Linked DNA regions of Homo sapiens: all the other regions are reported to be linked to region 1. The links are microRNA targets in miRTarBase. Many come from high-throughput screens and were not tested one by one. Region 1 holds a microRNA gene; each other region holds the end of a gene's coding sequence.

The links. The annotated mature microRNA hsa-miR-1277-5p reads AAAUAUAUAUAUAUAUGUACGUAU and lies in region 1 at 2,055-2,078, shown strand. An mRNA with a match to its seed (bases 2 to 7 or 8) in the 3' UTR can be bound and repressed. Matches are read on the target gene's strand: a 7mer-m8 pairs with bases 2 to 8, a 7mer-A1 pairs with bases 2 to 7 and ends in A, and an 8mer does both.
Region 2: miRTarBase lists ARSJ as a target of hsa-miR-1277-5p. Seed matches in the 3' UTR shown: 7mer-m8 at 2,448-2,454, 7mer-m8 at 1,962-1,968 and 7mer-A1 at 1,643-1,649.
Region 3: the mRNA of C4orf33 is a reported target of hsa-miR-1277-5p. Seed matches in the 3' UTR shown: 7mer-A1 at 2,086-2,092, 7mer-m8 at 1,915-1,921, 7mer-m8 at 1,429-1,435 and 7mer-m8 at 1,058-1,064.
Region 4: miRTarBase lists MIPOL1 as a target of hsa-miR-1277-5p. Seed matches in the 3' UTR shown: 8mer at 730-737, 8mer at 1,124-1,131 and 7mer-m8 at 2,656-2,662.
Region 5: miRTarBase lists PPP2R5E as a target of hsa-miR-1277-5p. The part of its 3' UTR that is shown has no 7-base or 8-base seed match.
Region 6: miRTarBase lists WNT5A as a target of hsa-miR-1277-5p. The part of its 3' UTR that is shown has no 7-base or 8-base seed match.
Region 7: miRTarBase lists CARF as a target of hsa-miR-1277-5p. Seed matches in the 3' UTR shown: 7mer-m8 at 870-876 and 7mer-A1 at 1,807-1,813.

The regions. Positions count from the first base shown.
Region 1 is chrX:118,384,347-118,387,783 of GRCh38, forward strand. It overlaps MIR1277 (microRNA 1277), which reads left to right and starts at 2,048; the gene lies at 2,048-2,125. It overlaps WDR44 (WD repeat domain 44), which reads left to right. Exons shown (of 20, transcript NM_019045.5): 3 at 2,994-3,068.
Region 2 is chr4:113,899,336-113,902,772 of GRCh38, forward strand. It overlaps ARSJ (arylsulfatase family member J), which reads right to left. Exons shown (of 2, transcript NM_024590.4): 2 at 949-3,437. The coding sequence ends at 2,939. Among named protein-coding and RNA genes, the nearest start is that of ARSJ, 79 kb to the right of the region's middle.
Region 3 is chr4:129,111,047-129,114,483 of GRCh38, reverse strand. C4orf33 (chromosome 4 open reading frame 33) reads right to left here. Exons shown (of 6, transcript NM_001099783.2): 6 at 1-2,798. The coding sequence ends at 2,693. Among named protein-coding and RNA genes, the nearest start is that of C4orf33, 17 kb to the right of the region's middle.
Region 4 is chr14:37,546,439-37,549,875 of GRCh38, forward strand. MIPOL1 (mirror-image polydactyly 1) reads left to right here. Exons shown (of 13, transcript NM_001388067.1): 13 at 467-3,437. The coding sequence ends at 533. Among named protein-coding and RNA genes, the nearest start is that of FOXA1, 47 kb to the right of the region's middle. RefSeq lists a silencer at 406-700.
Region 5 is chr14:63,373,440-63,376,439 of GRCh38, reverse strand. It overlaps PPP2R5E (protein phosphatase 2 regulatory subunit B'epsilon), which reads left to right. Exons shown (of 14, transcript NM_006246.5): 14 at 332-3,000. The coding sequence ends at 431. Among named protein-coding and RNA genes, the nearest start is that of GPHB5, 56 kb to the right of the region's middle.
Region 6 is chr3:55,467,240-55,470,623 of GRCh38, forward strand. WNT5A (Wnt family member 5A) reads right to left here. Exons shown (of 5, transcript NM_003392.7): 5 at 1-3,311. The coding sequence ends at 2,853. Among named protein-coding and RNA genes, the nearest start is that of WNT5A, 18 kb to the right of the region's middle.
Region 7 is chr2:202,982,891-202,986,327 of GRCh38, forward strand. It overlaps CARF (calcium responsive transcription factor), which reads left to right. Exons shown (of 17, transcript NM_024744.17): 17 at 616-3,437. The coding sequence ends at 734. Among named protein-coding and RNA genes, the nearest start is that of NBEAL1, 30 kb to the right of the region's middle.

The sequences.
Region 1 (3,437 bases):
TAAGCAAGTAAATAAGGTCATTTCGAACGATAAGTGCAATGAAGGAAAATAGGATAATGTTTTCCCAGCACCATTTATTGAGTAGGGAAGCCTTTCCCCATTCTTTGTTTTCATCAGGTTTGTCGAAGATCAGATAGTTGTAGGTGTGCGGTCTTATTTCTGTATTCTCTATTCTGTTCTATTGGTCTGTGTGTCTCTTTTTGTACCAGTACCATGCTGTTTGGTAACTGTAGCACTGTAGCATAGTTTGAAGTCGGGTAGCATGATGCCTCCAGCTTTGTTCTTTTTGCTTAGGATTTGCCTTGGCTATTCAGGCTCTTTTTTGGTTCCCTATGAATTTTAAAATAAAATTTCCTAGTTCTGTGAAGAATCTCAGTGGTAGTTTAATAGTAATGGCATTAAGTCTATACATTGCCTTGGGCAGTGTGGCCATTTTAACGATATTGATTCTTCCTATCCATGAGCTTGGAATGTTTTTCCATTTGTTTGTGTCATCTCTGGTTTCTTTGAGCAGTGGTTTGTAGTTCTCCTTTCACCTCCCTAGTTAGCTGTATTCATAGGTATTTTCTTTTCGTGGCAATTGCAAATGATGGGAGTTTATTCCTGATTTGGCTCTCTGCTTGGCTGTTATTAGTGTATAATAATGCTAGTGATTTTTGCACATTTATTTTGTATCCTGAGACTTTGTTGAAGTTGTTTATCAGCTTAAGAATCTTTTGGGCTGAGACTATGGGTTATCTAGATATAAGATCATGTTGTCTGCAAACAGGGATAGTTTGACATCCTCTCCTCAATCCCATTACTGGGTATATACCCAAAGGAATATAAATCATTCTATTATAAAGACACATGCACACACATGTTCATTGCAGCACTATTCACAATAGCAAAGACATGAAATCAACCTAAATGCCCATCAATGATAGACTGGATAAAGAAAATGTAGTACATATACACCATGGAATACTATGCAGCCATAAAAAAGAACGAGATCATGTCCTTTGCAGGGCCATGGATGGAGCTGGAGGCCATTATCCTTAGCAAATCAATGCAGGAACAGAAAACCAAATACTGCATGTTCTCACTTATAGGTGGGAGCTAAATGATGTGGACACATGAACCCATAGAGGGGAACAACACATGTTGAGGCCTATCAGAGGGTGAAGGGTGGGAGGAGGGAGAGGATCAGGAAAAATGACTAATGTGTACTAGGCTTAATACCTGGGTGATGAAATAATCTGTGCAACAAAACCCCATGACACAAGTTTACCTGTGTAACAAATCTGCACATGTACCCCTGAACTTAAAGTTAAAAAAAAAAAGAAAAATAGGATAATGTGATAGAAAGTTAAGGAGTCAGCTAAGGCTATTTTGAGATGGTCAGGGAAGTATTTTCTGATAAAATAGCACTTGAGCTATGACCCTAATGGCAAGGAATCATCCTATTGGCCAGAATGTAATTGTGGGGGAGTGATATGAGAGGGAGATGAGGAGTGTAGAAGATATCAAAAATGTAGGCAGAGGCTATGTCATGTTTAGGCCTTCATGGGCCTTGGTACTGTTTGGATTTTATCTAATACTTAAGAGTCCATGAAACATTTTTTTTTTTCTAGAAGAATCTGTGTAAGATTGGTAGTATTCTCCAAATTCTGGGGGAGGAATTCAGTGCTCGAAGATATTGCAAGTCCTACAGAAATTTCACTGGCACGTTAAATCTTTAACATTTTAATAATCTCTGGAGTAATTTCATTATTGAGCCTATTGTGATCATATCCTGATACTTGTATAAGTGCCACCTAAATAATTAATGTGCCTTGAGTCCTTTATCTGTCTAAAATGGTTATAATGACCTTCCTCTAACAAACTCTGTGATGTGCACAAAGAATTATGGTTTTTTTTCCTCAGTATCAAGAGTAGCATTCAAATTGCTGTGCTTCTATAAATAGACAACTTAAGATTGAGAAGAGTATTGTATTGAGATTTGCAAATATATGATTGTCTTATTTTACCCTAATTTTTTCCAGCAGAAATGCAGTATCCATTTCTAACCTCCCAAATATATATATATATGTACGTATGTGTATATAAATGTATACGTAGATATATATGTATTTTTGGTGGGTTTAATTTTTTTCATCTTTTTTCATAGTTTTTTTAGGGGCTTCATTTAACTTCTGGTTAAGTCTTGATTTCTTTTATCTAAAGCATGTAGAATTTTAAGAAAACTATTCCCTGAATGTGGTTTTCTGTGTTATAAACTTTTGTATTTGTGCATATTTATGGAGCAATGCTTTGGGGAAAATAACAATTTTTATTCAGCCCCTTGCTTAAATCCTTAATCCTTTTTAGCTATAAAAGTACGTAGAAGTTCTTATCGTCCATTACAGTTTTTTAATGTTAAAAAGTTGAGCAAGTTTTCACATTTAAAGGTAAATATCCTATTGCAGAATAATAGAATATTGCTGATGGGTAACTTTCTTATGCAAATTACATTGTCCCATTTGGCATAAAATTTCTGAGCATCTATCAGTATTCAGAAATCTAAGCCCTTTAGGCTGGGCACAGTGGCTCACACCTATAATCCCAGCACTTTGGGAGGCTGAGGTGGGTAGATCACTTGAGGTCAGGAGTTCAAGACCAGCCTGGCCAACAAGGTGAAACTCTGTCTGTACTAAAATTACAAAAATTAGCCAGGTGTGGTGGCACGCGCCTATAATCCCAGCTACTCGGGAGGCTGAGGCAGGAGAATCACTTGAACCCGGGAAGCAGAGGTTGCAGTGAGCCAGGATTGTGCCACTGCACTCCAGCCTGGGTGACAGAGTAAAACTCTGTCTCAAAAAAAAAAAAAAAAAAAAAAGAAGAAGAAGAAATCAAAGCCCTTTAAGGGCCTTTGATTTATTAATGCTACATTTTCTCATTTGTACCCCTTTAAAGCATATTTTTAAAGAAAAGATGTCATCATTTGGTCTCTATTTCTTTTCTTTTTCAAACAGGAAACAGAGAACACTGCATACAAAGTTGGAAATGAGTCCCCTGTACAAGAATTGAAACAAGATGTGTCTAAAAAGGTTGGAAAGATACAATGTCAATATTAGTTTATAGCAGACATCATATTTATATGGTATATTTCAAACAGCTTTTATATTCTTTTAGTATAGCGCTCTGTACATGGCTGATGTTCAGCAAATGTTTCATGAATCTGTCACATTTGTGGTTGAAGACATTTCAGTCTTTTTAGAAGTCCTTTTCATATTCTAATTGGTAATTTATCCTTGAGACAATATTTTGTAAAATGCTTTTATTTTTTGTTCTTGTATTTTTATCAGAATAAGCCCTAACTCTTCTTGAGGTTACTACCAGGAGTTATGGGTATTGAAAAGCTCAGTGCAGCAACATTCTGATGTCTTTAGGAATCAGAAGTTATAAGAAGTCCTTAC
Region 2 (3,437 bases), not on the chromosome of region 1:
TATCCCTTCTCAACCCAGAAACATAGCCATATTCAAAAATTATTTTCTGACAAAGCTAATGAGAGTTTCTTTTGAAACCCTAAGAAAGATCAGAGGTTTAAAAGAGGTGCAGTTGACACTTGAAAGAACCACAGGCAGCCTAGAAACACATCCTGAAGATCACAGTTTAGGAAGCTAACACCTGAGAATGAATTCCTCATATTAACATGGCATCAGTGATTAGGGCACAAAACTCAAGGACACAGTGTTTTCCTTCCTGGCCATCTTGAAATCCCTAGTGATTTGCTGCCAGCATTTTTAGAAACATTTTTGTTCATGACTTATACATGACTATTAGATTATATTTTAATTTCTTGAGGGCAAGACACTGAGACTTCTTGTAAACCACATCCTGCCTAGAGCCCTGGGCAGGTGGCAGGTACTCTCTAAAACAGTGATCAACATCCATGAAGCCATTTCCAGTAGAACACTGTGGGCTAAATTATTTTCACTGAGAAGATTATAATCATTTATAGAGAACTTAGAATTACATCACAATAGGTGATGCCTACTGGTATTTCTTAATCCTAATTTGCCTCTTTGCTTCTTTTTTTGTCTTTCTAGGAACTTCTAGAAGATTCTATGTTTACACTATGTTTCCAATAACAGTATAGTTCCTCAGAACCCTAGTCCTGTGCATTGTGCCACAGACAGCAGTTTTGTGGTGAAATTATGAAATACTGTATAACATTTTCCTTCTGTCAGGGTTACAATACAAGCTAAGATTTTAAAAACTCCTCTAAAAGAAAAACCTGCATTAAAGTGACTCCTTTGACGTTCTTTAACCCAGCATCTCCCAAACTTACTTTCTTCAGAACTCTTTTTTAGTGTAAAGATGTCTATTTTTAAAAAATGTATAAGATGCCATCTATTTTAAGACATGTCATTTATGTGCCACCAGGAAAGAAAAACATGAACAATATGCCTTTATTTTTAAGACTCATTTAAAAGATACTGTCGACAAAACACAAACTTTAGGAAATACAACTTTACACTATAAAATAAAATGGAGCCATATATTCTAGAAATAAAATGTTAAAATTAAAATCATTTAAATCATCTTACCCAATTTAGTAATTTCAGTACTAGATTATAGATTCTTTTATACATTTTCAGAAACTGTGAGCTGTGATATAAATGGATTATATCACAGTCCTTTGAGTTGTGATATAAATGGATTATATCACAGTCCTTTGAGCTGTGATGTAAATGTATTTAATGGTATGCTGTCATACCACCACACACATTTTCAGATCACAGTTATAACTTCAAAGATCATAATTCTAGCTATCTGTGACTTTTCAAGTGTATACTGTAAGCTTCAAGGCCTCTGCATTAGGAGAGGGCACTTCAAAGAAAACACCAGGGTCTACAGGATCCACACCAATCTATGCTCATTGATGACCCATGATAAACTTCATTACTGATAATACTCCTTTAATTCTCCTCATGACGTTTGCATGTGGGGTTTCCAAGCAAGGTTACCTACTCCAGGCAGGATCCGTATCTTCCATTTCTCTGTATCTCCCCACAGTGTCCACTTTGTATAAGAGTAAGTTTATTACTTTTAATGGGAAAAACCGCAACTAGTTTTGCACCAACCTAATATAAATGTTAGTTATTATTATGGGAAAATCTTTCTCCATGTCATAGCCAAGGGGAAGCATCTATCTGTAAAATCATATTATATTACTGTGGTTGTTAGCAAACCATTCCTTCAATTGCCTATTAGTAAAGATTTTTATTTTTTAGGACCAATGATACAATTTTAGCTAGAAGTTAGATCAGAAAAGCCACAGTAAATTTTCTAGTGCCATAAAGTAAATCATTTTAATAATTAAGATACATAAATAGTTTATGATAGAAACAATAAAGTTGTCTCAACTCTGCACAAACATTGAATTTCCAAGTAATTTGTAAGGAATATATTCATCTTATTACATTCAAAATCTTGGTTGAACAATGACGATTATAAAGTTTTCTGAATGATGTTTTTTATAGTCTGAATTCACACAGTATTACATTAATTTATAGTATTACAGTGCTTGGTAATTTGAAGAAATGAAATAAAATTATTCTAATGGTATGCAGGAAATAAAAATAAAATAAAGTCATTTGCATAACTTTTTATAAAAACAACAAAATATTTTTCTGTAAAAATAAATTAGGTTTTTTATACTGAAATGTTCTTCTAGTAAAGTGTTTAGAAAATAGTTACATTCATTGTGGGCAGTGTGCTCAAACATTCTTATTTGCCATTCCCTCACGCATGGTAAAATGAGGTGCAAGCTGTTCACATGTGAGAAAAACAGCTTTTCACAGGAAAAGAAACATATATATATATATAAAATAGAATTAATTAAAAAACCCAAGTGTCATATGACAGACATACAAAAATTCACCAAGAAAATATATTCTTCAAGGCCTTTGAGGTGACACAATCTTTGACTGTAATTTATCAAAGGTAGTTTTAATCATGCTACCCTGTAACTTCCATCAAATTAGCATGCTTGCGGATGGTATACCCTGTAACTTCCATCAAATTAGCATGCTTGCGGATGGTAGGTTATTGTTCTCCTCCTATAATTCAAAGCAGTGTTTGGTCAGTTGACTGAAGCACAGCAGTGGAACTCAGGACTCACCACGTTTTCTAAAGGAGCAAGAGAAATAAACATCTCCACTCTCTCTAAGTGTGGCTTGCAAGAGTAGCACCTTGGCACTGAGCAGGACAGTTTTCAGTGTGGCGGCCAGGTGGCAGAAGTCTCTGGAGTGGCACAGCATGAAAACAAGCCTGACGCTTAGGCCAGCGATATTATCGAGCCAAATTTGCTGGTTTACCTAGGAAACAGATGAAAGATAAGAACTGATTAAAGTTTAACCAAACAGGAAATATTTGTGCTTATCCACAAGTAACACCTGAATGGCAAGTTGAACCTGAGACTGCTTTCTGCTGTTTCTTCTTCTTTTTTTTGCTTTTCTTTTGCTTTTTCTCAGCCTGATTTTTGCTTGGCTTCTTTTTCTTGGTTTCCTCTTTATACCATGGTCCCCAGACCCCTCCATTGAGCCTAGGGTTACTTCTGGGGTCTTTGGGGGGATACCTGACCGGCACTGCAGTTTTGTTGAACTGTGAGAGCCTCCGTAGGAGCTTCTTCACGATTCCTGGATACCTGTTAGATAGGTCCACCCTCTCATATGGGTCGGCTGTGATGTTGAAAAGCCATACACTTTTGCCAGTTGACAAGGTGATCCGTTCATTGTGCCACCGGTTCGGTCCCAGGTTGCTGAAAGACTGAGGGGGGACCCAGTCGCTGTAGCCAGGATTTCCTGTAAGCAATTTCCAGTGCTGCACTCTGATGGCTGACTGGATTGCAGTGTTCCAGATCCCATAGCCTGCTGCC
Region 3 (3,437 bases), not on the chromosome of region 1:
GAGAGAGGTACCAGGAAGAGCAAAACAGAAAATGATGGAAATGAAGGAAAGATAATGCAAAAATGTGTTACTAGTTGGCCACTGCTGTGGGTAATCAGGGTGGAATCCTTTTAAGAGAACTTCTGAGGAGCTGTGTGGAAGGGACCATAAATTGTTAAACTGAGGGATGTAACAGAGAAGTAGTTATCCATCAACTCCCACCCTCTTTGGTCAAGAGGTGCCCCATGGGGTGTTTTAGTCCCTTCACACATCCCGGGTAGTTCATGTGAGAGAATGGCTAAATGGGTTCCTGCAAGTGTTCCACACAGCAGAGGAAGCAGAGAAGCCCTAGGGGCAGGAAGTAAGACATACACAGTACAGCTGAGGCAACTGGCCAGTCAGTTCACTGTATGCAACTGATGGCTGGAGTAAAAAGTTAGGCTGAGAGGATAGGAGGTGGGTCAGAAGAGCTATCTAGGACCAGTGAAATAAATGCTGTAATAAAGCAATGTGTAAAATATTATGGAAATTTACATGGAAAAGAAGAGACAATCCTTAAGCTTTGAGGCATGAGAAAAGGGCTGAGGGCTTACTGTAATTGCTTTATCCACTTGCTACCCTTTCTTTTTCAATATCAGATTAATTATGCTCATTATCTTCTGTCCTCCAAAAGCCTAACATTTAAAAAAGGAGCAAAAGGAGGAGAAGGAGGGGAAATTAAATGTTTTTTTTCCTGTGGCAAAAAACCTTTTTAACGTTTAAAAAAAGTAGTTTGGAGCCAAAAATAAAAAGCACATTTCCCTTCAGACTGTGACTTACACTTTCCTGGAGCTGGGAAAAAGCATGAGAATGCACCTGAATAAATATGCACATTGTGTAATCTATTTAGGTGGTGAGAAGAGAGAATCTGCTTGACACTGCAGTGAACAATTCAAATCACAGCAAAGAAATGCATTTATGCATATTTTAAACAAAAGGATGATTATTCTTTCATGGTCCTGAAGTTGAAAAACAAATTTGAAATGGCTATTACAAACACCCACTCTCAAATAAAAGTTTCTTGGATACAAGTTTCTAGAATATATCATTTGTACCTGACTAATGGACAAGCTTTCCGAAATTCTGTAGTTGATATGCATGTTCCTTTCAAAAGAAAATGTTTATATAATGTATTTTTGCTTGCTTGGTATTGGAAGAAAAGGAAATGCCTTATCTAGATGAAAGAAAGTTAAGAGATGTTTAAAAAACATCTAAACAAATTTTAAAAAGATACACATTAGATTTGAGAAAGCTCACAAGCTACAACATTCAAATTCAGTATTTTATATTGTTGTGATTGTATCTATCATATTTGTGCTTCATTTTTATCCATATTATAAATAGTTATGATTTATATCTGAAACTGTGATTCACAGTGTTCGATTCGCTTCTAAAATCAAGATGCTCTAAAATATATCTTGTTTTTATTTTGATAGTTTTATATGCATTTATAAAATTATTCAGGTAATTTATAAATAAATCGTCCTAGGTTATTTAAAATATGCCATTCGTATCTAAAACAGGCAGATCGTTTCTATATCAAATTAATTAGTTGCTATTGTCAGTTTTAAGAATAATTTCTCAATTTATCTAAGATGCCTAACACTGCCACCATGATGTGTAGTCAGGATACTTAATAATACCTTTTGTAAAAGTTAGCATTTATCTTACACCAGCTCTCTTTTTAGATAGAGAACATATATAAGAAATGAGTAAGTCGATAAGCCACATTTAACCATCACTAGTGATTGTTCAATGGAAACATATAAACTCAATGTAAACTTGAAGTTAATTCCATTTAATTTACAGCTTATTTTATAATAGTATTTTATTAAGGAATTAATTTACATATAGTAAAATCACAAATCTAAACATACAGCATGAGGAATGTTGACAAATATATGCAGCTACATAACCATCATCCAGATCAAAATACAAAACATTTCAATCACCCCGGAAAATTTCCTCAGGCCCCTTTTCCATTCAATTTGAATTCCCTGCCCTCACTCTAAGCAGCCACTGTTCTGGTATCTATCATCAAATATTAGTTTTGCCTGGAAGTGGCTTTAATATAAAAGTAATTAGATAGTATGTTATGTTTGGTTTGTTTTGCTCAACTTAATGTTTTTGAGATTCATACAGGTTGTTGCATGTATCAGCAGTCCTTTTTTAAATGAACAGTATTCCACTGACTATATTGTAGTTTGTCTATCCATTTTCCTATGGATGGAAATTTCACTGTTTACAATTTTGTGCTATTATGAATAAAGCTGCTATGAGCAGTCATTTTTCTGGGGTATATATCTAGGAATGAAATGGTTGAATCACAAGGTAGTGCAAGACAGTCCTCTAGGTGGCCTTGGACAACCTCAATTGTTCCCCCTTTTTCACTTGTAGTTTTCAAGAATAACTGTACTGTGTGCTGGGAATGCAACATCCTGGACTAAGTGACTCTGAGAAACATTGTGACTTTACAGATGAAATCATCTACAAAGAATCATATATTTTCTTGTTAATCATATACAATTTGCCACAGATACTATATTTTCAGTGACTTCTATGAAGATATTTGTTGTTGAAATGTATGCATGACATCTTAAAAAATTGATATTTATTTTTTGTTTATCTTAAAAGGTATAGAGGAAAAAATGATCGGTATGGTTATCTATTACTCCTATATATCACATTTCTCTATTAGCCACAGGTCTGATTCCGGTTGTTTCCACTCTTCTCCAAGCAGTGTGTTAAAATTGAAAGACTTGAAGTATTCTAGGCAATGGCTAAAAGCAAAGAAAAAGAAGGTGGGAATTGAAATGAATTATGCATTTGTGAAATAGTTGTCCTGAAGGGCTATTTATTTTGTCACAACTGTAATACAACATTCTATTTTAAGCAATACTAAAGGTAAGATATATTTTATATGTACAGTTTTCTCACTCTAGCTGTCAAACACTCAGCTCTGAAAACATTCACCTGCATCTCAAAGCACTCTTCTTTCAATTCTGCAAATAACTCCCTCACAGCTGAAGGGAGAAATCAGTTCTCAAAACATAACTCATTCCATCCAGCTTTAAACAAATCATATTATGCTCTTGCATATGTTTTTATATTCAAACTTTGATATAATTTATATCAGTCATATAAGCAATTGTTTTGAAAAGTTTCAGTTCCATTGATAAGATAGACTTCTTAATTCCCTTCTCTGCTGAAGCAAGAGAGGTTAATGTAAAAGAGTATTAATCCCAGTTCTTTTCTTTCGAGGAAAACCACTTAACTACATTAAGAAGCTTTCTCTTGTGGCTTAATGAGGAGAGAAAGGCTTAGCTAACATGCTGCAGTGGAGCCCCACTCTGTAGGAAGTCACTCTGCCTTGGCTCTGTCCTGGCCAATGTATAATCGTACTTCCACCTAAGATAAGC
Region 4 (3,437 bases), not on the chromosome of region 1:
GAATTTAGTACATAGAAGTTACACAGTATACCAACCAATGAATCACTTATCTAAGTAACAGGTGAAACATTGCTGATATTTGTGTTTTGAAATATGTGCTTTTCTTAGGTAAAATCAGTTTATTCTACATTTAATATGTGATCCTGTCATTGCATAGTAAATGATTCATTCACAACCTTAATGCAAGTAGCTAAATGTATTGAAATAAGTGTCCTATAAATTTTGTGTGGCATCTAATGCTGACATAATTCAAGGATCTGGGTTAAAGTTTGTGTCGTTGCTGGGTTTTTTAACCTCAAATACTTGGCACTCTGTAGCAGTGTCTCTCACAGTAATGCTTTGTTTCTTAACATGACCGTGAGGACTGCTTGGTCACAGGCAAATACTGTCCTTTATCAGCCAGGACATTCTTAACAATAATTGCCCTTTTTTTCCCCTTCTCACCCCCATCCCAACCCCAACTTAGGTTGGAAAGGCTGGTGGATGTACTGAGGAAGAAGGTTGGAACCGGGACCATGAGGACAGTGATCTGATTGAAAAAAAACGACAGTCTGGGGAAGCGATCACATCTGGTGACCAGGCTGCTTCATTCAACACTGTGTAAACACCAAAGCCTTAACTTAGCAAACAGTTGTTAGAAGTGGGACACTCCAACCACATTCCAAGCTGAGATAAAATCAAATCACAAATGTTTAACCACTTTGCTGCTGACTTGAGTTATTTATCCAAATATATTAACTATAGACTTTTACCAATGGGTAGCTATAAGGTTACAGCTTATTTTGTAACTATTTTATATCTCAATATCTTTAATATAAATCTTTTTACTGAGAGATCATTATAGAAACATGTTAAAGTTGGTTAGGATCATATCTTCACATATGGCCCTTTCTGAATCAAAGTGCGGCAAAGTAAATATTGTCTAAGCTTTAATCCACTGTGTTAGGTCAAAACTTCAAATACATGCATTTTTCAATATAGGGTATATTTCTTAACTGATGAGAGAGGCTTAGACATGAGTGTGTAGTCTTCCTTCAATGCGTGTATGTAATCTTTGTTAGTATAAAAGATATTAAATATAGGTGCCAAGAATTAAATGTATAATTTGTTTAATAAGAGATGGATATATTAAAATTACATTCATCAAGGCATGATTTTTGTTTCACTACAAATAATGCAAACTGTTTTCAATAAAAAGAGGAGACTGTTAATGTGTACTTATAAATTCACATTGTCAGTATTTTTTAATATTGGGTCTGAATAATTATCTGAATTCTACTTAAGCTATAAGTCTCTGTCATTTTTGCTTGAAAATTAGCATGCCTCTGTCTTAAAAGAGACCATCAAACCTATTAAGTATTCTTATTGTTTATCTTTTTTTAATTGCCATTTGATTTTTATTGTGGAGGAGGAGGATCTAATATATAATATTCAATACAATTGTAATGTAGAAATATAAGAATTTAGAAAAAAGTAAACTTGCCATTTGGTTAAGGTTACCTGCTTTTTATTTTATTCCAGAAATAAGATAGTTACAGCATAGCAGTCATATGAAGTTATGAATAGAACTGAGATTTTTATGTAATTAGTTATAGGCAAAATACTTTCATATTTTTAGATTAGACAGACGAAAGACCAAGAGGAAATGACTGTGCCTGGAACAGGATGAAATAGACAAGTAGAGATTTAATTAGCAAAAATTTTGTAGGGAAGTAAAATTTTTTCTAAGTCTATACGTTTTTAATTCATCTTTAAGATTGAGCTAAATTATCTACCATTGCCTATTTACAGGATAAGTACATTCAGGACAATTTATTGTACCATTCTTTCATATACCATAGCAGATTATCCATTTCAATTTTTTTTTACTCCACAGGAAAATGTAAGCTACTTTGTCATAGATCACAAAAGAATCATAATGCTAACAAACTCTATTTCTTCCTTATTAAATCTGTATCCATTAAAGTAACTTTTTTAACTATGAGAATTAGAAAATAAGGGACAACAGGGGTTAAAAATAAACTGATTTAATTTGCTCTATAGTCCTAAAGAGAATTATATCCTCTCATAGACCAATGACTCTATAATAGAGAAATATGTAATGATTTGGTCATGCATGGAGTCTTGTCTCTGGGCTCTATTTGAAACGTGTAACAGCTCCCTATGTGAAGAAACATTATCTTTAAAGTCATCTGGGAGGTGCAGGTAAGTAAAGAGAAACAATTTTTGTCACAAAGTAGTCCATTCCTGATCTCACTTAAAATAAATCACAAGTAAATTTGAATTTTCGGTTTAATGTTGAAAGCAGATGAACTTTTCTTGAGTTATTTTGTCTTTTAGAATACACAAAATATAGTATAAAGACATTTCACAATTTCCAAACAAATCTTTCTACGCTTAAATGATCAAATTAGAAAAACCAATTCCTATAATTAATATGCAGAACTTTTATAGAATATGATATTATAAAGTTAAATTTGCAAAATAATTCTAACATCCACTATTGTTCAGTATAGGTAATCTCCCAAAAATATCACATCCTCTTGAAAATGAATTGTCTACAAAATTTCAAATGCAAAGTATTACAGCCAAATATTATCTTAATTAATTTCTTACACTTAAAAGTGTCCATCAACAGTGTGTCAGATGGTCTTTATATATTTTTTCTGTATGAAGGAATAGCCTTGCCTACTGAAGATAGGTTCTCTATGTATTCAACAATAATGCAACTTTAGAAGTATTCCACACTGCTGAGAAATGTTGCTTTGAGTTTGCTTTACACATCATCAACTCTAAATCCTATAGTAACATGAGAATTCACTTCTTCTTGTAAAAATAAGTAATTTACAGGAAAGGCAAAATGCTAATACTAACATTTGTAGCACTTGATGATTTACAAAGTCCTTTTACATCTGTTTTTTCATTTGATCCTATCGACAATCATAATAATAATAAATTATATATATAACCCATATAATAACGATGGTGATGATAATTTTAGTATTACTGTCATTATAATTATTATTATATTCATTCTACAGATGAGGAAACAGACTCAGTAAGCCTTGGAATTTGCCAAGGACTGGCTAGGACCTAGAACTAAGATCTTATAACCACACTCCATGCAACTATGAGTCTCTAAATCTCTCTGTAAGAAAAAAATTTCAAAGTAAAGATTTTACTCTTGCAATTTCTGTTGTGATAGTACCATCTCTTTCACATACTACATACAAATTCCCTAATAATCAAAAGATTGTACACATTTTTTTCAATGAAGTACAATAATGTGAACTGCATGTGTAAACAGCATCACATTATTACCACCTCTCTATGGTATTATAGTGGCAGTATGCTTTGCCTCAGCCTTCACTAATTAGGAATATTGTGACAATTCATTGCTAATAAAACATAACATGAGTCTCTTTGTACTGTTTTTA
Region 5 (3,000 bases), not on the chromosome of region 1:
AAAATAGGAATAAAGGAGCAGATATATTTTCTTGACCTACTATATTCTCTGTATCAGTGTCATCTCCAGCATCCTTTTTGAGAAACTATTTGGAGATAAAGAAAAATTAAGATTCTTACTAAGCTGCAAGTGAAAATCACTAATATGCCCTTGATTTTACAATAACTGATGCATATAAGTCATTCCCATTTTTGTTTCTTAGTAATTTTAAAGTTAATTTTCTCAATTAAGCTAAGTATAAAGGAGTGTTAAGGTGAAATTGTAAAATATTCATTGTTGCATAATCTCATTAAACCTCAGCTGTTTACATTGTATTCTGTTTCTTCCTCAGTGAGAAAAAGAAAGAAAAGGAGCGTGAAGAATTGTGGAAAAAATTGGAGGATCTGGAGTTAAAGAGAGGTCTTAGACGTGATGGAATAATTCCAACTTAACAAAAACAATGACAACAACATTACTAACCTGTGGAGTCACACGTTTATGTAGTAGAAGATGGAGCAACAGTTTTCTGTATTGTGCAACTTTACAGTAGATTTCACCTTTGTTTCATTATTACAGCAGCACTGTATATACCTGTCTCTAAGTAAAGGAAAAAACAAAATAAGGACTTCAATCCAAAGTTTGGACAGTAGATGGACTTCTCAGAACTTTGCAAACATAATCATTGTTCTCACCCTCTTTTAAAAAAAAAAATCGGTCTTCAAAGATCTGTTGATGAAATTGCTATGTTAAAATTCCATTATCGGGAGTTCCTTATTTATCACTAGCAGAGAGTATGATACAATTTTCAAATGTGAACAATCTTAAATTTAGCTTGTCTTTCTGCTAAGCTGTTAAATGTATTTATAGTAAAGGAAGAAAAAAAGACTGTCATTTCCTTATAAGTTTGTGTAACATCCTCCTCTGGATAACTTGACTGTAATTTAACATCTTTTTCTTTTGCACATCTTCCTGAGTTGAATGTCCACGTGGAATGGGGTCATGAATTATAAAAGTCCCTGATAAAAGTTTTGTTTACTGGGGTGAACATCTTTCCAGTAACCAGGTAGTCCTGGTACTCCTTTAGTTTTAAAATTAGGAGTTAAGAGAGAAGAGGTGATAAACATAGTAGGGAAGGGAATATCGGATTCATGCATCAGTTTATGGTGAATCCAAATCAATGTCTTGAATCCTTTGAAAACAGGCACTGGGACATCACAGGCTTCAGTACCTGACCAGTATTAGTTGCATATATCATTGAACACACATACCAGAGATGTTTTAGAAATGTGAGAAAAACATCCTTTTGGACCATTTGAAATAAGAAAGACAAACACTAAACAATACAACCATGAAATTGATCACCGGGATTGCAAATCTAATTGGGAAAAGAGTTGAGCAAACAGCTTGGACTGTTTGGAGTTGTTGCCTTACTTTTTAATATGTATTTATAAAGTATTCCAGCAAAAGAGGATGTAGCCTCTGGGAAAAAACAAACATGTTACAGTGTTTTTTGTAGATTCTCGTTCTATATCTCATCACAGCGCCAGCCCTGTTTTTAGCCGGAAAGGATTCAGGATAAACATTATTATGCATTCTGAATTGGATGCATATTCCTAACTACTGTATTTGTTACCAAAAGTGGTTCTACAAATGCTACTGAAAAAAATCTGGAAATTCCTAATGTCCTGAGTATTAATAATAAAGTTTAAAAATGCTTTTATATCAAAGGTGCATCGTGACCAAATTGTTTAAGAAAAAAAAACAAAAAAAACAAAATCTAGGGCTGTATTTTATATATATATATATATATATATATATATATATATCTTATTGGCTCTCTGCTTTGTATTTAAATGAAGAATCTTACATCTTGGGTAGGTAAACTGCTGATAAAATTTGTGTACAGTATGTACTTACCTAATGCAGTTGCATTATTACGTACTGAAAGATATGTGTTTGGAGGTTTATTTCCAGGATGCATTTGCTTGTTTTGGTCATGGCAGCAGTGAGTTGGTAATCCTAAACCATCACTTCCAGCAGTATTCATGGTATAGAGCTGATCTGTGTTCATATGTTGAATTGTGATAGTAGCAAACATGAACATATGAACTATTGTTGCTCTTAATAGAAATACAATATAAATATGGGCTTGTATATTTTCTTCCTTACATTTAAATATAAAGTAGAATACGCAGTTTTATTATTTTCAAGAAAAAGAAAGAGAAGCTGCTGACCTTTCTCCCCCATAAAGTTTTTCAGGATGATCAGGTCACAGTGTGTACGTAAGAGTCAGCTAATTATGGATATTGTCATCTCGGTAACTTTGTAAAAAAACAAACAAAACTGGCATTGTTAATTCCAAAAAGAAAAAAAAAAGCAGTAAAAAAAAAAAGTCATATGCAACACCAGACGCAACATGGTTTAATGGAATTAATAGTTTTTTTTTTTTTTTTTTTAAAGAACATTGATGGGGATTCACTGTAAAGTTGGCAGAGGCTGCCAAAGACGAAACAACTGACTTTAAAAATGCTGGAACAATGTGATAAAAAATAAATTTGTAACAAATCTTCTCCTTTTTAGCCCTTGTCATTTTAGCCCTTTAGTTTCAACTCTGCATTATATTTAGTTTATATAGTGTAAACTTTTGTTTGCCATTAATTCATCTTTTTAGGTAGAAGACATTAAAATCACAGGTTTATGAAGAATCTCTGCTCATTGGAATGAAATGCAGTCATTTGAAATGAGAAAGGCCAGGATCCTTTTTTGTACCTTACCCTGTCTTCAAGAGTAAAGGTGAACACTTACAGCTCTCCTCCTTGATGTCAATTTTGTATGTTGATCATTCCAAACTGAGAAGAATAAAGCCACATTTTAGACATATTTATAGAATCAATTAAAGCTATATGTCTAAAATTCGTAGGGCAACTTCTGAGAAGAAACACCGTCTTTTTCTTTTTTAATGGAAAGTGACAATGTGACATTAGTCATGTTGTGTGCGGTGACGCAGAGTAACTGAGGTAA
Region 6 (3,384 bases), not on the chromosome of region 1:
GTGCCTTTTCATTCTTCTCTGGGATGTTACAACAGCAACACGCTCTAAAACAATTAAGTTACATGCATAATGCTAAAAGAATGTGAGCAATCCTATAACCAGCTTTAAGCCATCTGCTTGATTTCTTTTTTTTTTTTTTTTGTAAGGAACATATATAGGAAAAGAGAATTCCCCTTTTGTTCCATTACATATAGAAACCTTTTGAAGCTTCCAAATAGCTTGGTTTTGGTAAAATTCACCACTCTTTTATTACTTTGACATGTAGTCATCCTAAACTATCCGTCATGGTTTCTCCAAAAATCTCCACATGAATTATCTGAAGGACAATTGAAACCACTTACCAATATACAAGTAACGTTTTATTTTATATTCTATCTTCCATTTGGCATAAGCCTTTCGATGTTTGTTTTTTAAACCAGTGAAATATACAAATCACGCAAGACAGAAATATGTACATTAAAAGTACAGAATAAAGGCTAGAAGATATACATAATATCTGAATGACATGTAGAATATTTTACATTAAATAGTTTCTTTTAAAAGCTAGGATTGTTAAACTCAACTCTCTTCATAAACATGAGTCACTAAAAAGGAACAATCTGATTTAGCAAATAAAAAAAGTACTTCATGGTTTTTGTATAATAAAAACCAAAAAAGTGACATTTTAAACTAATTAGTGCTTTTTGCTTTCAAGATCTTTTGCTCACAATTCACTGCAACTGAGGGGATGTGAATATCATTATGCAATAAATTAAGAGCCACAGTTGGCTGAGGTGATATGAAAGCCAACCTGCCTAAGGGGGGTATGAAAGATGTGTATCTTTCCAAACTTTTAAAACAACGTAAGTCTGAGATAAGAACATATTTGATGGCACTGTTTGGAAAGAGGTGTCCTTATTAAAAAAAAAAAAAAAAAAGCTATCTATGTAGTGGGCTGAATATTCCTTAGGGACTCAATTAATAAGTACTGTCATTTCTAATAGGCATGGGTTTCCATTCTGCAGAATGAACTAAGAAAAGAGAAACATTGCTGATGCTTCTGAGTTTTGAATATCTCTTAACGTCCATGTCTATAACGAACAAGTAATGCCCTCTCCACAAAGTGAACAGAAATGGAGGTTGGAGACAAAGGGGTGAGGCAGAAAAGAAAAAAGATATCTTCAACCCAACACGCATTTCAGTGAGTCAGAACTCAAGCTTCCTCAGAAACAAGGTTGCTTCGTCGTGCTCAAGGTATGATCACAGCAGGGCCACAGCCCAAGCTCAAGACTCAAAAAACTTTTGGAATAATCCCAACTGGACTGCAGTGAAGGACAACAATGCTCTAGACAGAGAAATAACCCCAGAGTAAACTGTAAATCTAAATCACTGGCTGCAATGAGATATATTTATATTTATATTTATATATATGTATATATATATATATGTTATGTACAAAAGACTTTGAGATATCAGGCACCATTAAACCACATTTCCCCCCTTATAAATGCAACTGTTCAAGTACACTGGGAACAGTTTTAAGGTACACCTGCAGTACAATAGGAGAAGCATGAGTGGATAATCTAAACACAGGATCATAACAGTGATACGCTGCAACACCTCTGTGAATTCCATTAGCCAAGTTCTGTCATTAAAACATAGAAAACTACTGCTCCTCAAAATAAAAGTTTTAGGAAACAAAAATCCCTAAGTAGTGAACTGTTTTCCAAGCAGAGCTCCTAATGTTTCATTTCCTGTCCTACAACCAAAGGGGACCCAGTGGAGCTGCCGTTTGGAAACGTGGCCAGCATCACATCACAACACGGAGGAATCAGAGAGGGCTCAGTGTGAAGAGGAAGGTGGATTTCACTGTTTTTCCTCAAATAGGTTGTCTGCTCTGGTGCAGTGCTGAATGGCACGCAATTACCTTGTTGCTTGGGCTGAGAACCTGTGAATGGGATTCATGTATTATTTTTACTATTATAATTTACTAACCAAGTATCCCTAAGAAAATAACAGGATATTTTCATTTATGTTCAAGCCAACCTCCCCAAACAAAAAAATCTAGTGTCCAGAATCATTTGGGGATCTTTTTACAATCTGGAATCCTAATTCTTATAACAGCTTCAAATCAACATCTTGACATAAGAGTTTTAAATTTTTTAATTTCTGGGGACTTTCCTCCCTGCTGCCCAAATTTCATGAGCTATTAGAATATGACGGTCTGTCTGCAAATGGAATATTTGAGGAGAATGAGACATGTGATATACCTTTTTTCCTTGAGAATATGACATTCTTGTCCTTCCATTGTAAATTATCATTTTGAAAATGCAGAAAGCAAGCTAGCAGCCCTGCTGGGGAAGGGAGGTTTGTTTTGTTTTGTTTTGTTTTCCCAAGACCTTTTATCTTGCACCAGAGAATTTACAACTCATTTTGGTCATAGAAGCTGAATTGTGAATAGATTTCTACCACCCTCTTTCAACTGGAACCTACCCATCCCATATGATGGCATATTTGAGAAAAAGAAAATGTATTTCTTTACCTTCTGGATGTGTACCATGTCCACACAGCTAAGTTAGGGTATGTGTTATTTCCCCTTCATTCTATACTATCAAAAGAAGTCTTGTATTACCTTTTCAAAGATCCACAAAATAAATATTTTTCTTGGTTCCCACCCCCATTATTGCCAAATAATAATTATAATATTAATAATAAACCACAGAGTTCTTAGATGGTAACAGGAAAAAAAATGGTTCCGGTTGCAATTCTTGGGGAAAAATAAAAAATATTTCTAAAAACCAAAAACCAGAATCACTGTACTTTCTATAAATAAGCGGGTCCTGGGAGCGGGGCTGAGTGCTGGGTGGCACCCACTACTTGCACACAAACTGGTCCACGATCTCCGTGCACTTCTTGCACTTGACGTAGCAGCACCAGTGGAACTTGCAGTGGCAGCGCTCCGTCTGCACGGTCTTGAACTGGTCGTAGCCACGGCCGCAGCACATGAGCTCGCAGCCATCCATGCCCTCCGACGTCTTGTTGCACAGGCGGCCCTGCGTGCCCAGCGAGCCGGTGCTCTCATTGCGCACGCAGTAGTCAGGGCTGGGGTCGATGTAGACCAGGTCTTGTGTGGTGGGCGAGTTGAAGCGGCTGTTGACCTGTACCAACTTGCCCCGGCTGTTGAGCCGCATGGCCGCCGCGCTGTCGTACTTCTCCTTCAGGGCATCACCCACCTTGCGGAAGTCTGCCAGCTGCAGCCAGCATGTCTTCAGGCTACATGAGCCGGACACCCCATGGCACTTGCAGGCCACATCAGCCAGGTTGTACACCGTCTGCAGGGAAATGGGGGCAATCAATACACACATTCATGGAGGAGCCAGATGCAGGCTATAGGAACAAAGTTCT
Region 7 (3,437 bases), not on the chromosome of region 1:
TTTTTGTTGTTTTGAGACAGAGTCTCATTCTGTCACCCAGGCTGGAGTACAATGATGCAATCACAGGTCACTGCAGCCTTGACCTCCTTGGTTCAAGCGATCTTCCCACCTCAGCTTCCCAAGTAGCTGGGACCACAGGCACATGCCACCATACTGGGCAAATTCTTTAATTTTTTTTTTTTAAACCAGCCTGTTGCGCAGGCTGGTCTTGAACTCCTGGGCTCAAGCAATCCTCCCACCTCAGCCTCCCACTCCTCACGCAGTGAGCCACTGCACCTGGCCAAAAGGAAGATTTGGAATTACAAAATAAATGTTGAGTTGAAAGGGAACTAGTAAGACTTGGGCATTTAGGTTTAGCCCAAGACCTTCTTACCTTCACTTTATTACTAATCTCTGTCAACATAGAAGTAAACTCTGTTAACTCCTACTTTATCTGTTACTTCTTTGCACATGAATTGTTCTGGATTGGGCACTTTTGTGGGAAAAGATTTGCAGTTTGCTTTGAAGAACAAAAGTTTTCACAGAAGTTATTTTTAGAATATAAAATATTTTTCCCCTCTCTTCCAGTGTCATGAAATAGATTAACTTTTAGGATTTTTCTGTTTGTTTTTAAAGTTGAAGAAAATCCAGAAAGTACCATTTCTGTGAGCCAAGTTAAACAAGAACCCAAAGAACCAGCATTGTCTATGGAAGCAAAAAAAACTGTGGACTATAAGAAATTATCTGCTACATAAATTATTGAAGCTTTTCAGAATTTACAACTCTGGTGACTTCTGATGTCTTAGAAAGGAAGGTGAATATAGTCAAAGCGTGGCATTGAGATAATTGGACTGAAGACCAGTTTGATGAGAAGCTTTTATTTAAAACTGATATATTTGTTGCCAGTTCCATATTTTTACCTTCCTTAAGAGATGTTTTACTCTTCTTATTTTGTATAATTTTTATGCTCTTTGATTATCTAATAAGGCCAGTATTTCAAAAGCTGTTCTGAATTTATCCACAGTAATATAGTCTGAACACAAATAGTTTACTTAACTTATCCTTGGAAATATTCAATTTTGGTTATTACAAAACAGAAAAGAACAACAGCAACAAAAACATTGTGTGAATGTATGTTTGTATGTGTGTATGTATATCATGAATTTTTTTTTTAAGTTCTGAAAAAGAACTTGTTCTCTCCTTAAAGTTGTGAAGAAATTGTTAATTGCCAGACAGGTAAGAAAATGTTTATAATCTATCTCATTAAGAAAGATGAAGTATTAGATTTTACATCATAACACAAAGTCCAGCAGCTACATCTGTGGAAACTGTGCAGTTGCATTTTAGCCTCTTCCCTTCCAATTTTTGTACTTTTAACTACAAACCAGTAGTATACTAATGGTTATCTAATAGAAATTTAAAGTGTCTTGGTAAGTACTGAGAATTTTTACTTGAATTAATCAGATAAGCAACAGAAATCAACATATGTAGCATGGATTTGTGCTATATTGGAAGTAAAACACTATAGGCAGAAAGATGTAGAAATTAAGAGAATTGAAAAAGAATAATAGAATTCCTTGGTGTTTACAGATAATTTGGAAAACTTTTTGATGACAGCAGAGGATTTTTTCCCCCTTATTTTGTAATGAAGATCCAGCACTGGTTAAAAAATAATTTGATTTGTAGTTACATTTTTCTATGCCAGAGCTCTTACTGAATTGATGATATTAGGATTTCTAGTATTTTAAGGTAAGTATTTATAGTTTAAAATTTAGTTTATATTTAAAACTTTAAAACATCTGATCTGGGATTTTTTTGTTAAGTAAGTATATTAACTTCAAATACCAAATTACTACTAAGCAGTATATTGATTATAAGCATCTGTTGTCTAAAGATTGGTACTAGGCTGGACATGGTGGCTCACACCTGTAATCACAATACTTTGGGAGGCTGAGGTGGGTAGATAACCTGAGGTCAGGAGTTCGAGACCAGCCTGGCCAACGTGGTGAAACCCTGTTTCTACTAAAAATACAAAAATTAGCTGGGTGTGGTGGTGGGCACCTGTAATCCCAGCTACTTGGGAGGCTAAGGCAGGAGAATCGCTTGAACACCGGAGGCGGAGGTTGCAATGAGCCGAGATCGCGCCATTGCACTCCAGCCTGGGTGACAAGAGAAAAACTCCATCTCAAAAAAAAAAAAAAGATTGGTAAACTAGAAATATCAACTATAATTGTCAGGAAATTAACCTAAAGGCTTTTGTTTCTCCAGAGACCATTTGTGGGTATATTTTATATTTTAAAAATAAAGATTTTAAATGGATATCAATGTTTAATATTCAAAACATGCACAATATAATATCAAATTTAACCTTAATACTTTACATGAATATGAGTCACTTTTGGCTTTTCTAAGTCCAGCCTCCCATTCTTAATTGACTTGGTTTCAGGTACATGACATGTATCTAAATATAAAGTACTGTTATAGTAGAGGTAGGTGGAATTCTAATATTCCCTGCTCTTTAGATTTATATTTTATTTAATATAAAGTTTATTATTTATACCCTTTTTAATGCAAAGCTAATATTTAGTTATATGTATGATTTTTAATAAAAATTACTTTACTTTTTCCTATGAATTTAAAACATTTGATGTTGGCATTTTATACAGGCAGGTTGCCAAATTTAATTATGTTACACTAAGTTAAACACAGCACTTAATTACCTCAAATCCAGATTTCTCTTAATCTGTGTGTACATAAAAGGAATAAGTCCAAATTAATTTATAGTTTAGTGTTGCACTATAGGTAATATTCTTTTGTTATTTCTAGTTTTTATGGAATCCTTTTCTTTCAAGATTCTAAATAATAAATCGTTACGTCTCAATAGTGGTAATAGTGGTAATGGTTTATTATTAGCTGTTTCACCAATTGAACTACATTCTTTTGGAGACATTCCTTTCTTTTTTGATGTTGATTTGCAAAGGAGAAATGCTTGTTAATATACAAACTCTAGTCAGTTACCTGTGAGGATGAGATGTGTCAGAGGACTCAGACTTTGGTATAGTTAGAAAAATAATATTTTTCTCACTTGATTCTGTGTGAATGTCTCTTCTGATACTGTTTTTTAATCAGAAAGTTACAGAGCAACTTTCCCACAAACAAACCAATAAAACAAAACCCCACAAAAACCAAGAGCATGAAGAAAAGTTTAAATCCCTAATTATATACTCTTTTGGTTTTTAGGTAGAAACTGGAGCTATCAATATTTTCATGTAAGTATTTCAAGGAGTAGCTCTTTAAAAATGGTTTCTAAATTAGATTTTAAAAATTCATTGTCATCTAAATGCATGTTTAGTCACAATGTATCAGTATTGTGTTTAAAGGTGCTCAGCATCACTTTTTGAAAACTATGTTTACATATTTAAAATGTTTAATTATTTTGAAATGTATAGGGTATTAAA